2 linked regions of the Homo sapiens genome follow. The protein of the gene in region 2 interacts with the protein of the main gene of each other region in a biochemical or structural test. Each region holds a gene or a part of one and is shown on either strand. Other genes may lie near its edges.

Evidence for each region. Proteins that work in one complex are often made in the same cells at the same time.
Region 1: the proteins of DEPDC1B (region 2) and PTPRF form a complex in vitro, tested with the Homo sapiens proteins (one study listed by BioGRID).

What each region holds. Positions count from the first base shown.
Region 1 is NC_000001.11:43,603,857-43,610,886, reverse strand, and holds part of PTPRF (receptor-type tyrosine-protein phosphatase F isoform 1 precursor), read right to left. Parts: coding exon 6,698-7,030; intron 5,985-6,697; coding exon 5,887-5,984; intron 5,698-5,886; coding exon 5,444-5,697; intron 5,359-5,443; coding exon 5,265-5,358; intron 4,648-5,264; coding exon 4,429-4,647; intron 4,074-4,428; coding exon 3,919-4,073; intron 2,564-3,918; coding exon of another isoform or gene 2,552-2,563; intron 1,505-2,551; coding exon 1,389-1,504; intron 1-1,388. UniProt on the Homo sapiens protein: Possible cell adhesion receptor. It possesses an intrinsic protein tyrosine phosphatase activity (PTPase) and dephosphorylates EPHA2 regulating its activity.
Region 2 is NC_000005.10:60,641,159-60,648,188, reverse strand, and holds part of DEPDC1B (DEP domain-containing protein 1B), read left to right. Parts: intron 1-655; coding exon 656-791; intron 792-2,569; coding exon 2,570-2,697; intron 2,698-3,313; coding exon 3,314-3,444; intron 3,445-5,329; coding exon 5,330-5,377; intron 5,378-7,030.

The sequences.
Region 1 (7,030 bases), on a different chromosome or scaffold from region 2:
TTTTATTTATTTGTTTATTTTTGAGATGGGGTTTTGCTCTTGTCACCCAGGCTGGAATGCGATGGTACGATCTTGGCTCACGCAACCTCTACCTCCTGGGTTCAAGTGATTCTCCTGCCTCAGCCTCCTGAGTAGCTGGGATGACAGGGGCCACACACCTGGCTAATTTTTGTACTTTTAGTAGAGATGGGATTTCATTAGCTGGTCTCGAACTCCTGACCTCAGGTGATCCACCCGGCTCAGCCTCCCAAAGTGCTGGGATCACAGGCATGAGCCACCACGCCCAGCCAGTAAAAATTTATTTACAAAAACAGGTGGTGGGCTGTACTTGGCCACGGGCCATAGTCTGCCAACCCCTGCTTTAAATGACTCTAGCTCCCAGCCTTCAAGTCTTCCGGCTGAGGGCCCAGACTTTCTGGAATAAAGACAAGCTGTTCCTGCTGTGCCCCTGTCTGAATTCCTGCCTCACAAAAACTGTGACAGATAATACATAATTATTGTTGTTTTAAGCCACTAAGTTTTGGGGTAATTTGACATGCAGAATAACCAGCTCATACATACACAAACCCTGTGTGTATGCATTAGTTCACTCATTCCTTCATTTGTCTGTGTGTTCATTTCACAGGCATTCAACAAGAACCCATCGTGCGCTGAATACAAGGGATGGGGGATGACAAGACACAGTTCCTGGCACCACAGAGCTCAGAGACTGTCACTGAGGTAATCCCAGCTCACTGTGAGAGGCGTCAAAAGGAAGAAGGAGGGAGGTTCCTGGAGCCAAGAAGAGACACCTAACCCTGTGGGGGTGTGGGCAAGAGGAGAGGTCTGAGCTGTGTCTGCTGGGTGTTGGGAGGAGTAACATTTCAGGTAGAAGGAAGAGGTGGACAGCCCCATGAGAGTGGCTAGGAGAAGGGGCAGGTACGTGGTATGGTAAACCTGGGGTCGGCCTCCAGGAAGGCTCAGGTGCAGGCACTTCATCTCCCCACAGATGTCTGGTGAGGCATCTCCCACTGCTAACATGCCCCTCTTTCATGTGGAGGCGTCAGAGCGTGCGCCAGACACTGGCCACCCTGTGGCAGAGACGTGGGCTCTGGGAGGTCCTCAGCCCATATTCAGAGGCCTTGACTGAAGACAAGGCAGTGGCTAAGTGGCTTTGCCACCTAAGAGGGTCCTGGCCTGGGGCACCTGTCCAGCTGCAGGATATGGGGGCTCCCCAGTCATTCCAACCAAAGTGGATGAGCACAGGGAGAAGGGCAGAAAGGAAGAAAAGGAGCAGGAACAAGTGCATGCGGCCCAGGAACTTCAGTGGCGACCCTGAGACCTGCAGAACAGACCCACAGGCCTGCTAGGTCTGGGCTGGGGGCACACAGGCCATAGGAGTGCCCTACCTGGGGTCTGGTAGTTGAGCCTCCGCATCTCCACAGGGTCAGAGGAGTGGGCCAGCAAGGAGTCCTTCAGTCCGATCGACTGCTCATCCTTAGAGGACGGAGAGTGGGTCCTTTTCCTAGAGAGACAGAAGGGAGGCTGGTGAGAACCTGAGGTCCAGGCTGAGACAGTGACACATGGCATGGCTGGCTGCCAAGGAGCCCCCATGTCCACGGCTCTGTCCTCCTACTGCCCCACCTCTTCCCAGGATCTCTGAGCGCGGAGGAGCCAGGGCCAGAACAGCCTTGACATGAGAGAACACAGGGCAGGGAGGGGGTAGGGAGAGCAGGAGTGTGGCGTGAGCAGAGGGGCAGTGCAGCAGGGAGGAAGGGGTTGCAGGGGCGAGCAGCTCCTTTGGATAGAAGGCAGGTCACTGCAGGACAGTGACTGCTATCTCCAAGGCCACCCAGCTGAGTAGCAGGAACCACCGGGAACAAACATGCAAATGACACATAAAATACACAAACAGCACAGGAGACAGGGCCCCAGCTTTTTGGCCCTCAGAGTATCAGGGTAAATGCCCAGGGCAGCAGGGGAGGGACGGGAAAGGCGTCACCCTAGCTGGGCAGAGTCCTCTCTCACTGGCCTCAGTTTTCCCATCTACAAGGACAGGGTCAGAGACAGACCATAGGATTCAGCTGCCAACAAATAGCCAGAGGCTACTTGTGGTCTGCAGACGCATGTGCTTCGGAAAGAAGAATTTGAGTGAGTGTGCTCAGGTGGGTACAAGGACATGCCTCTCTGCTGTTCCACACAGTGACTGCTCTTTGCTCTGTGCGAGACTGTCTCTCGCAGCACTTAGGCAACTTCTCAGAGAACTGGGAGCCGGGTGATGGTTCTGGTGAGCTCTGTACGCTCAGGGAAAGCAATGCAGTCTGTATTATGTATGTGCCCCAGAGAAGAAGCATCCTCTGCAGAGTTGAACTGGCAAGAGTGAGACAGAAACTGCCTCCTCACACCAATGAGGACTCAGTCCTGAACCAGGGAGCCTGCTGAGCTGACTGGACAGTTTGCTGCTTAAAGCCATAGGCCAGGGGACTTCTGGTCAAAGCGTCATCCCTCCCTGCTGGCCCAAGGATTAGAAGTAGAGGGGGAGGTGTGTGAAGAGAGAAGGAACAACTCCTACCTTTCTTGTTTACTAGGTCCCGAAAGACAAGCAAGGACAGAAGAAAGGAACGGTCACAGTTTCCACCAAGCACTCAGCCCTCTAATGACATGGGGACCCTGCAGGCCCCTTATATGGCACCCACATGACATTCACAGGGAGGGGGTCTACCTCTCTGGACAGACCCAGAATGCAGGTGGAAGTGGGAAGGATGAGTGCATCTGTGGGACACTCCTTAGGGACCCGCCCACAGGTCCATCCACCCTGGGAGGAAGGAGTGGACTCTTTAGGAAGGAACAGTGGGTCCAGGGTAGGCACACAGGATACAGGCTCTCCTGCATGGTGCAGAGATGTGCTCAGACACACAGACTAGCATATCTTCATCTGCCAGGTGCTCACTGACATGCCTGTGGGCTCAGCCCAGTGCTGGGGGCTGAAGGCTTGGCACACAGGCCCAGCTGCGTTTGCAGTGGAGCATCACAGGGGACAGCTGTGCAAGGAAGGGGTAGGGGCCAGGCAAGGCCTTGCAGGCACCAGAGCATGGACTTGAGTCCTGAACGATGAGATTGCTGTTGCCAAGTGGGCAGGGGGAGGGAGATCCGCAGAGGGCACACCCTGTGTGGGCCTGAACACTGAATGAGTTCAGTGTCGCAATGTCAGGAGTGTGGCAGGGGTCAGATTAGCCAGGTGTTTGGCTGTCAGGCTAAAGAGGGTGGGCTTTACGTGGGCAGCCATCAAAAGGTTTTAAACTGAGAGTGACAAAGTTAAATCTTTGGAAATCCCTTTCAGGCTGGAAGGTGCACGGATAGGAAGGGAGACTCCTAGGGCAGGTGGTGGCCACTGCCGATAGAGAACTGAGTGGGAAAGACACACTGAGGCTGAGGCCGCTGCGGATGGCACGGGCACAGCAGGCCATCAGTCATGTCTGTTAGTGAGCATCCATGGCCTGTGGGCCTCCAGCTCGACCTCTCTAGGCCTAAGCAGGAGAGTAGGGCTGGGGAATCATCCAGGAATGGTGGCAGAAGGAAAGGACTCGAGGTAGGAGCTCAGGAGATGGCGGTGTCTTAAAACTGAAGAGGAGACAGACGCACTCTTATCCACAGAAACACAGAGACAGACAGACGTGCCAGGGATGCACATGAGACAACCCTCTGAGGCTTTAGTTCCTCACGCCCAGGCTGCTGCAGAGGCTCCCTCACCTGACAGATGCAGGCCTGCAGACACAGGTAGGCACACACACTGCTCCTGCCCTTCCTGCCTTCCTGCTGAGCCTGAGGCTCAGGGTCCAGGATGCAAGGCTGCACGCTCTCCACAGGCACCACACCCGGAGAGGGCCTGAAAGGCGAGGGGCAGGTGGCCGTTCCCGGAGCTCTGAGGGCAGTGCTCACCTTTTGAACAAGAGGATGGCGATGACAATGAGGATGATGAGGATGACTGCCAGCACGGGACCCGTCACCCACAGCATCTCCGGCTCCTCCTGCTGCTGGGCTGGTGTCACCTGGACCACGATCTCATCCGAGTAGGGGCTGGAGGCATAGCGCTTCTGTGGCCCGGTGGAGAACAGCAGGCTGTGAGCTCAGCGTGAGAACCCCCCACCCTCTGCCTATTAATCCTGGAGAAAGGGCTCTGGGTCTGGGTTACCCTGGGCCTGGTCTCCCAGACCCTACAAGGTGGACCTGGCAGGACTGGGTCCCTGGAGCCACATTAGGTCTGGCCTCTGGGTCCCAGGGCCGCGTCTTAGGATCCCCGGGACAGATCTTGGGTCTTTAGTGCTGCCCCAGGATCTCGAAGCCCCCAAACTGATAAAGACCTGGGGTCTTGTGGTGTTTGAGACTGGCATCGTCTCAGGCCAGGCCCAGGGAATCAGGGTGCTGACAGCCAAGCCGGCTCAGGCAGACCTGGTCCATGGGTTCCTTCAAGGAGGCAAGCACAAAGCACTGGTAGCTCAAGTCCGGAGACAGGGGCCGGTTGTAGAAGCCCCGGTAGTTCTTCTTGTCCCCCAAGGTAAAGGTCTCCGGGAGCACATCCAGTTGAGCAGCCACATATGGCTTCAGACGTTCTGCCTGCCGCCGCCGCCGCCGCTGCTCCTCTCCGCCTTGCTCGATGGCTTCTAGAAGCTGGCAGAGCAGAGCATGGGGGTCATGAGGGGCCTTGGAGCATGCCGGCCAGCCCTGAGGCTGTGGCCTGGGATGTCAGCTCCCTGGGCCGAGATCAAGGCTCACCTTCCGTGTCAGAGCCCACACCTGCCCAACCCACTGCCCCTACAGAGTAACAGACACCGTGAAGCCACTCCTCCCCACCAGCCCATGAGAAGCAGCCCTGTGTGTAAGCTGCCCCACCCTAACCAGGCTGTTGCCACACTGGCTATGAGAAAGGACTGAAGGATTTCAAACATTCAGGGACTCCTGGCTATAAGGCTCACTAAGCCCTCCATAGCTTCTAGATCTGCGAGGCTCTGCAGTGTCTACAGGGCTTGGCATTCTCTAGACCTGCAGAGGCATCTCCACGACATCCCACCCCAGGGATTCTTCGTAAGCCCTCCGGGAGTTCTGTGAATACTCCCAGATGGTTTCCTCAGAGTCCCTCTCTCCAGAGAGGGGCGGGCTGCCAGCCAGAAGAGAGATTTCAATTTGGGGAGTGAATCTGAGAGTCACTGGGACAGTGCTCAGGGCAGGAAGGCCACAGCTGACCACTGCAATGGGGCTGTCAGTGTCCCCATCCCCTCCCCAGGTACCTCGTCCAGCTCCAGTTCCTCGGGTGTGCTCCACCTTGGCGTCAGCATGCTCCCGCCCACACGGTCAATGGGCACCACAACAATGTAGAACCACCTGGGTGGGCAGGGCAGGAATCAGGACTGTCACTGCTGGTTACCTCCAGCCCTGCCCCGCCTCCCCCGATACCTCGTGTGCACACCTGACAAGCGAGGGGTCTTGCACATGGGGCATGGAGAGATCGAAGCGGCCGTCCTCTATGTAGGCAGAGGCAGGCAGCGGCTTGTGAGGCAGGAGGTCGGGGGCTGTGCGGATGGACACCAGGTGCTGCAGGCCCCCTGCGCTGCTGCCACGGTTCATCAGCACAAACGAGTACTCTGTGTTGGGCTGCAGGTCTGCGATCAGCTTCCGCATCGAGTGCCCGTCCACCTCCACACTCTGCCCATTGTACAGAATCTGTGGGGGACGGGAGGGGCAATCAATGCCTTTGGGTGAGGTTCCCTACCACGGGCTGCAAGGCACAGTGCACGGATACACAACCACATTCCTGCTCCACAGCCGGATGCACATGGGTTAGGACTGGAAAGACAGCACCCAGCAGGCCTGTGTGTGTGCCAGGCTCAGCTGGCCGTGGCCCTTACTCACCTTAAAGGGCACAGCTGACTTATAGGAGTCGGGAACCTCCCAGCTGAGCAGCACAGACGTCTTCATTGCAGCCGCCACCCGGAAGTTCTTGGCAAACACTGCAAAGGCATAGAGAGAGTCAGCTCTGCTGGGTATATGAGGTGGGGTGAATGGGCTGGAAGGGTGGAAGGTGAATGGCCAGGATGAGACACTGGTTGGGGAACAGGGGGTTGAAGGATGGCTGCAGAGTACCAAGCGCCCCACTCCCAGCCAGCTTCAAACGGCACAGTTGAACTCCCAGCCCAAGCTCTTCCACAGTGAGCACCAAACAGGGCGGGGGATGCCACAGCAACCAGGGTCAGAATCTCCAGAAACGCGAGTGTAAAAGCTTGAGCCGATGGACACCAGGCCAGAGTGATCAGAGGGTCAGTGGGTTTCGGTCATGAGAAGCATGTGGCCACACACCAGAGCGTGGTGGAGCATGTTCACTAGAGGTCGGTGGGTCATGGCCCCAAGAGATTAGTGTCACACACCAAAGATCAGGAGGTTGCACACCCAAGAATAGTGACACAGTCAAAAGAGATCAGTGGGTCAAGGTCACAAGAGATCAGAAGGTCATACAGCAGAGGTCAGTAGGTTAAGGACAGCAGAGGTCAGGCATCAAGAATGTGGTGCCCATTCACTAGAGGTTAGTGGTCACAGTCATGAGAGATTGGAGGTCACACACCAGAGGCTGGTGGATCACAGTCGCCAGAGGTCAGTGGCTCAAGGAGAGCAGAGACCCCCAGATGCAGCCACACTCGGGAAGGGATGCCATGTCCACAGCACACACCTTGCTCCACCGGCATGGTCCGGGACTGGATGCTGGGGCTGAGTGGGCCAGAGCCTTTGCTGGTCCATGCGCGGACCTTGATGTCGTAAGTGGTGTCTGGCTTGAGGCCAGTAAGGGTAAAGCGGGTGTCTGTCGTGATGTTCTGCAGCTCCTGTTGGCTGTTGATGTCTCGGAACACCACGGTGTAGCTGATGATGCGCCCGTTCCTCTCCGCCAGCACTGGCGGGTCCCAGGCCAGTTCTGTGGTAGACGTGGTCAGTCCTGTCACATGCAGGTTTTGGGGGAAGCCGCTGGGCAGGTCCTCGGGGGTCCTGATCTCCTTCTCGAACTCCT
Region 2 (7,030 bases):
TATTAATAATACTCTGCTCTTAGGCAAACAGAGGAAAGACAAAGCACTTTTCCATATTTGCTTCAAATGGCCTTTAGCCCCAAAAAATTATGTCAAAGAGGAATGTTTTGAGGTGACACATTCTGTTTCCTTCAGTACTCTCGTTGGTGAGTCTCCAGATTCACCTTCATATAAACTTCCCTTGAACACTATAGACATTTTATAATTCTTTATTTCTGCATTTGCTTTGAGATAAGGTCTTTAGTTATTTGTATGATTTTTTTCTGTGGATAACATGGGTAAGATTTTTAAGCTGTTTTTTTGGCTTAAGTAAATAAAAAGTCAAAATAAAAGTCAACAACCCGCTGCCTTTTATGTCAACATTAAGAACTAGAGTTCTTACATTGCTTTTGCAGTGCAATGTAATGCATTGTATCCTTTTCTAACAAGACTGCAGAAAAATATTATCTGATAAAAAATATGTATTCAATCACCTTTCTTTTCTTTATCAGGTATGGTATAGAGCAGTTTAAAAAATTAAAATTTATGTAATTATTGTATAAATATTGTACAAATTATTGTATAAATTTTCAGATACACCAAAGTGGAGACTATTGTTAAAATATCTGTGTCTCCCACTGACTGCAGTAATAGAGAATTTCTTCTTGGGTTTTAGATTTCCTCCTTCTTCACCCCTGAAACCATATCCAAAGAAGCCCCCAAACCAAAAGGATGTTATTAAATTTCCAGAATGGAATGATCTCCCACCAGGCACTTCACAAGAGAACATCCCAGTGAGGCCAGTTGTGATGGTAAGTGCCATGACTGAAAGATGGAAGGGCTGGCAGCAGGGAGAATCATCCATGAACTCCTAGGCTTGGTCTTTCTGTGGTCCTTTATGAACAATAATTTAAAGGTACTTTAAAACAAAATTGTACCTGCCAACAGCTGGGAGACCAGTAACAAGGAAAGAATGACTCTTGCAGTTTTTCACTCTTGCATGTAAATAGTTGTTGTACTGTATTGTTTAGGGCAGCAGTCCCCAACCTTTTTGGCACCAGCGATGGGTTTCATGGAAGACAATTTCTCCATGGACCAGGGCTGCTGGGGTGGGGGTGGGGGTGGTTTCGGGATGATTCAAGTGCATTACATTTATTGTGCATTTTATTTATATTATTATTACATTTTAATATATAATGAGATAATTATGCTACTCACCATAATATAGAATCAGTGGGAGCCCTGAGCTTGTTTTCCTGTAACTAGATGGTCCCATCTGGGGATGATGGGAGACAATGACAGATCATCAGGCATTAGATTCTCATAAGGAGCACACAACTTAGATCCCCCAGATGCACAGTTCACAAAAGGGTTCACGCTCCTATGAGAATCTAATGCGGCCGATCTGACAGGAGGTAGAACTCAGGCAGTATGTGAACAACAGGGAGCTGCTGTAAATACAGATGAAGCTTCACTCACTTGCCCAACGCTTACCTCCTCCTGTGCAGCCTGGTTCCTTATAGGCTATGGACTGATACCAGTCTGTGGCCTGTGGGTTGAGGACACCTCGTTCAGGGAATAACAAGAAGAAGAAAATGCTACATGTTCAGTACAGATGCAACCATCCATTTTTTTCCTCTGAATATTTTCAATCTGTGGTTGGTTGAATCCATAGATGCAGAACCCATAAATACAAAGAGTCAATTGTATATGGCAGCTGTTTTTATATGTTCAGACTGAGCAGGTTTCTGTTAAAACTCTCTTGTAATCCCCTTTTCCTGTACATTCTATAACTTACTACTCTTCTTCCTCTTTGTCTCTTCCTCCTAAACTGTTATTATTGCCAGTTGAGGGTAAGAAGGTTAGGATGTGGAATATTGTGTACTAGCCCCTGACCAAATATATAAGCAAAGGTAGATTCTTCTAGTCTTAGAAAACCGAAGCTCATTGTAGAATTGACTGCCTCTTTTTTTCACATTTTTTCCTTAAAATACCCCCAGTAGAAGACCACCAGGACTGAGGTGTAATGCTAAAAAGCAAACAACAAAAAAATTTCTGTTCCTTTTGCCATCTTCAGCTGTCCTTGTGGAGCCTTTTGCAGATGGCTAAGATTTGGGGGCTACTTTCGAACATTGCACTTACTTGATATTTGCTTATAAAAAATAGACAGTCCTCAAAAGTAATACATTTTAATTCCATTTTCAATAATCAGTCTGTACAGTGTATGAATTTAGATATGTATTCCTTAATTTTGAATTGATAACATTTTATTTCACTGCTATTTCACTGATTAGTTGAAACGTCCACAGGAAAAATTAGCTAGTTAATGCCATACTTACTGCCATAGCTCTTTTGTAATTCATGAATATTCATTTATAACATGACCTAGTCTTAAGAATCACTCTTTACTTCTCTGAGGTCCATGTAAAGAAAGTTAGTTTATATTTCTAATTATTATTTTAAATCAAGTTACAAGTAACCAAATCAAAGACATTTCTCATAAAAATCCCACCACCTTATATTGAAATATTTATTCACTGTCTTTCTACCGTTTCTCCTTCCCTCCCTTCTTACATCCCCCCTCCATTAGAATTCTGAGATGTGGTACAAGCGTCACAGTATTGCAATTGGAGAGGTGCCAGCTTGCCGTCTTGTCCACCGCAGACAGCTGACAGAGGCCAATGTAGAAGAGATATGGAAGTCTATGACATTATCATAGTATGTACATTTGATATTAATGAGAAATTTTAGAGATATTGTTTCCTATTTTGCTACTTCTTCACTCTCTGCATATTTAATTTTCTGAAATTATGTATAAAAATCTCAACTTTGCATTATTTGCAGTTGTGATCAGCAAACATAGTTTAACTGAATTCTGGGGATTATCTCCTGCTATTTACATAATAGTTAGGAGTTTAAAAGTTCTTAAGAGTAATAAGACACATAATAGAAAATTTGGTCTCCTAGATACTGATGTACTGTATGTATAAAGTTAACAATCATATACAGCAAAATTTTGTTCCTCATGAAGATATGCTAATAGTAGTTTCTTATCATTGGATAAGTTAGTTTTTATGTTGTAGTATTTTTACTTACAAAATTACTTTCTTGTCATTTGGTGTGTTACTAAATCTGTGAAGCAAAATGTTAATAGCAAAAGGATATCTTTTACATTTGTTTTATTGTACTCCATTTCTACCCTTTTTGCCCCGCAAAGATTGGGTGCAATGCATGAAAATAAAGCATTATAAAGATTGATTTTTTGTAGTACCAGGTTTTTGAGTAAATATAATATTAAAGACAGAACTAATTAATATAATTACTTATCTTTTAGCTTACAGAAAATTCTTGGCCTGGATTCCTTAGAAGAAGTTTTAGACGTCAAACTTGTCAATTCGAAGTTCATCATCCATAATGTATATAGTGTTAGCAAGCAGGGAGTTGTTATTCTTGATGACAAGTCAAGTAAGTGCATAAATATAATTTTGTTACTTATTGACATAATATATTGGCTGCACAGGTCCATCAGCTCCTTTCTGACCCTTCCCTAAACCCTGAATAAGTTTGTTCCTTCATTACGTATATTCTTTCTAATACCTTTTAACAAATTGTTTGGAATAAGGGAATGTCATAGGAAGATGAGTATCTAGGAATGAGAGCCTCAGCAAAATCCATCCAGAAGCTAGTTCAGTGTTAGCCACCTTGGGCATTAAGTGGTTTCGTATTCCCAGGGAAATCTCTGAAAAGTGAGAATATTCAAGACATAACCAAGAGTTAGAGTCAGTTTTCAGGTGGGCCCTGGGGTCTGACTGCATTTAGAATTCTCACGTTTTTGTTTTGGCTTCTCTGTGTTAGATTTTCTGGAATAGTCTTGGTTCTTTTTAATAAGGTAGTTTTTGAAATGTTGATATTGCTTTGATTTTTTATATTTCCCACCCTAGACCAGTTTACAAATCAGAAAAAACAAACAAACAAACAAACAAAAGAACCATATAACAGCCACCTAACATGGTTTTTGGTTTGTAAAAATGTGGTTAGGGTACTGATAGTGGACCACAGTCCCCACACTGATTTTAAATCTTTCTGTGGATAAGGACCAGATTTGGATGGGCTCATTGATTTGTTCTTCCTTTAGTTCAAACCCTCGATGCTGGGAATTGGCTGGAACTTGATGATCTTTGGATGTGGGAAGATGGCATAATACTTCTTGACTTTTTAAAAATATGATTAAATTTAGGGCTGGAGGCTCCTGGGAAGCAGACAGAATGTAGCAGAATAGCCTGAGCAGTGGTGAGAGGGGAAGAGATTTTTCTATGCCATGTTTCCTGACAGGAGCAGAACCTGTCTTCAGACCTGAAACACTTCTCCTTTTATAGTCACTATATGAGGAATGGAGGACAATGAGAGACAAATAAGTTTGTGGTGACTTTATGAGTTTTGAGGTTAATATCAACATATAAAATTAAGTTCCATAGAATGAAGGGAAGAGTGCAGCCTTTGAAATACATCTAAAATTCTTCCACATTCTCTGAGTGTAGCAAATTAATATTTTTAGTTATCAGTTAGATGATCAATCATCTTTCATTTTATTAAGTAAGATCTTAAGAAAGAAGAGAGCATTTTACAAGACTCCAGTTCATTAGATCTAACACAATTCAACAAGTGTCTTCGCAGTTTTACAGAAATAGAGAAGATGAAGTGGCAGCCTGAGTGCTAGCCCATCTCATCAGATGTCTGTGGCAGGGCGTGGAGGGAAGAGATTCTGTACCAAATGGTTCAGCTGGGATTTTTTTTGTAGCAATGTTCAGTTACTATTATTTAAAGGTTGTCCTAATACTAATAGCCTAACATTAATATGTCAGTGGAACTTTCTTGGCCTAAAGCATTTTGAAAATGGAAACATGTAAAATGATACTTATATTGGACCTACAGAATTACCCTTTTTGAGGGGCTGGTGGTGTTTGATGAACTTGTTTCACAAATGTGTTTGACGACTAATATTTTTTCTTTTCTTTTTCTTTTTGTAATTCTTAAAATAATTGGTTTGTCTTTTGGTTTGTTTGTTTGTTTGGAGCAAACTATACATTTTTTTCTTTTTACTATAGCTTTAAAAAGGTGCATTGTGTCCTTAGAGAAATCTGTAGGCATTATTTATGTAAGTGCATGTTATAACACTGCTGACAAGGAAAGGTTTCCATCTTTTAAATGTTCTAATAACATAAATTGGTGATTTGTGATTAGCAGATATGGTTCATATTACTTGGGCAAGTAATACATTCTTATGATACCAAGTATGTATATGATGTCTTGAGTTATATGGAATTGAGTACAAATTTTCTTTTTCCTTCAGAAGAACTTCCTCATTGGGTGCTGTCAGCTATGAAGTGTTTGGCAAATTGTAAGTACTAATTATCTGCCAGTTTTGTGAAATTAACAGAAATTAGTGCCCTAAATTAGGAAAAATTTCTGCTCAATGGCCTGAACATTGATGTGACACCTGTGAGACTGGCAGTTAATTATTTTGGGACTACTGTGCTTTTAGTGATAAATTTGTGACTTAGTGAAAGGACTGAATTCTAGAACAGTTTTAAAGGGATTTAGTACTTCTACTTTCTAGTAGATCCATCCACACTAGTTCTAATTGCTTCATCACAGGATGAAGGATGGTTTGGAAGGAGAAGAACCTGCCATGTAGAGAAATGAGAAAGACTGTTTCAGTAATTTGGATGTTAGATGAGAGGGCCTGGACCAGGGTGGTCCCTGTGAGGATTTTTATAGGTATATGAAATCCATTTCATAGGCATGTGATTTCCATATCATTGAATATCATAGGCACTGTGAAGGCATTAGTTGTTATAGTATCTCAGAAACACTACCATTCTTCTGGGAATTTTCACAAGGGTTAACCCAAAGAAGGGATTCTAATGATTAATGGCTTAACCCAAACAAATAATTTTGATGGAAAGAGTTCTAGTTATTTTGGCTGACTGATAATAGTGATATTTGGTCTGGAGTGCCTTTTGAGTCTCACAGATACCACAAGGTAGTAGTTCATTTTCATTTCTTTTGTACGGAACTAGCACTACAGATATAGGTGAAAATTCCCTTTAAATTCGTGAATTAGTAAACCCTAAAACATGGGTTTAACTGAAATTAGTTTTGTTTGATTATAGAATGAAACTAAAATAACTCTTAAGCTTAATGTGGGGAATCTTAGTAGTAGTATATGGAACATGATCCTATGATTTTGAATAGCCTTTTGAAGATGAATGCTATTCATTCATTCTATACTATCCTTCTGTATATGAATAGTAACCATTGGTTTGTGTGAAGCCCAAGGTTCTCTGAGTTTAACTGTTAACATTTTCATTGGTTTTTGGTTAAAATTTGGAGCCTCTGAGATGCAGAGTACTATGGTCTTAGCTTGGGGAAGTGCTTTTTTTTCTTCCTGCTCAGGCATTTGAAGTCAATGAAATTTAAATTACATCCTTGTCTAGGGTTGACAATGATGAGATAGAGAGTATAAATGAGAAGTTAAACTTCCCATTTCTGAACTGGCAAATCAAGGTTTTAGAAGTTCATCAGGCCAGGTGCGGTGGCTCACGCCTGTAATCCCGGCACTTTGGGAGGTCGAGGTGGGTGGATCACAAGGTCAGGAGATGGAGACCATCCTGGCTAACATGGTGAAACTCCGTCTCTACTAAAAATACAAAAAAAATTAGCTGGGCTTGGTGGCGGGCGCCTGTAGTCCCAGCTACTTGGGAGGCTGAGGCAGGAGAATGGCATGAACCCGAGATTGTGCCACTGCACTCCAGCCTGGGTGACAGAGCAAGACTCCGTCTCAAAAAAAAAAAAAAAAAGAAGTTGATCAGCTAGGAATGAACATAGGAAGCTAGTATAACCAATCTAGTCTGTAATATGTTGTAAAATATATAGTAAGATGTTTATGATGTTGAATTTTCAATGATTACTGAAATGTAGTAAAGAACATAATTTTCCCTCAAGCAGCATGTGCACCGAAAGCCAAAAAATTTCTGCAGAAAGCTTAGAA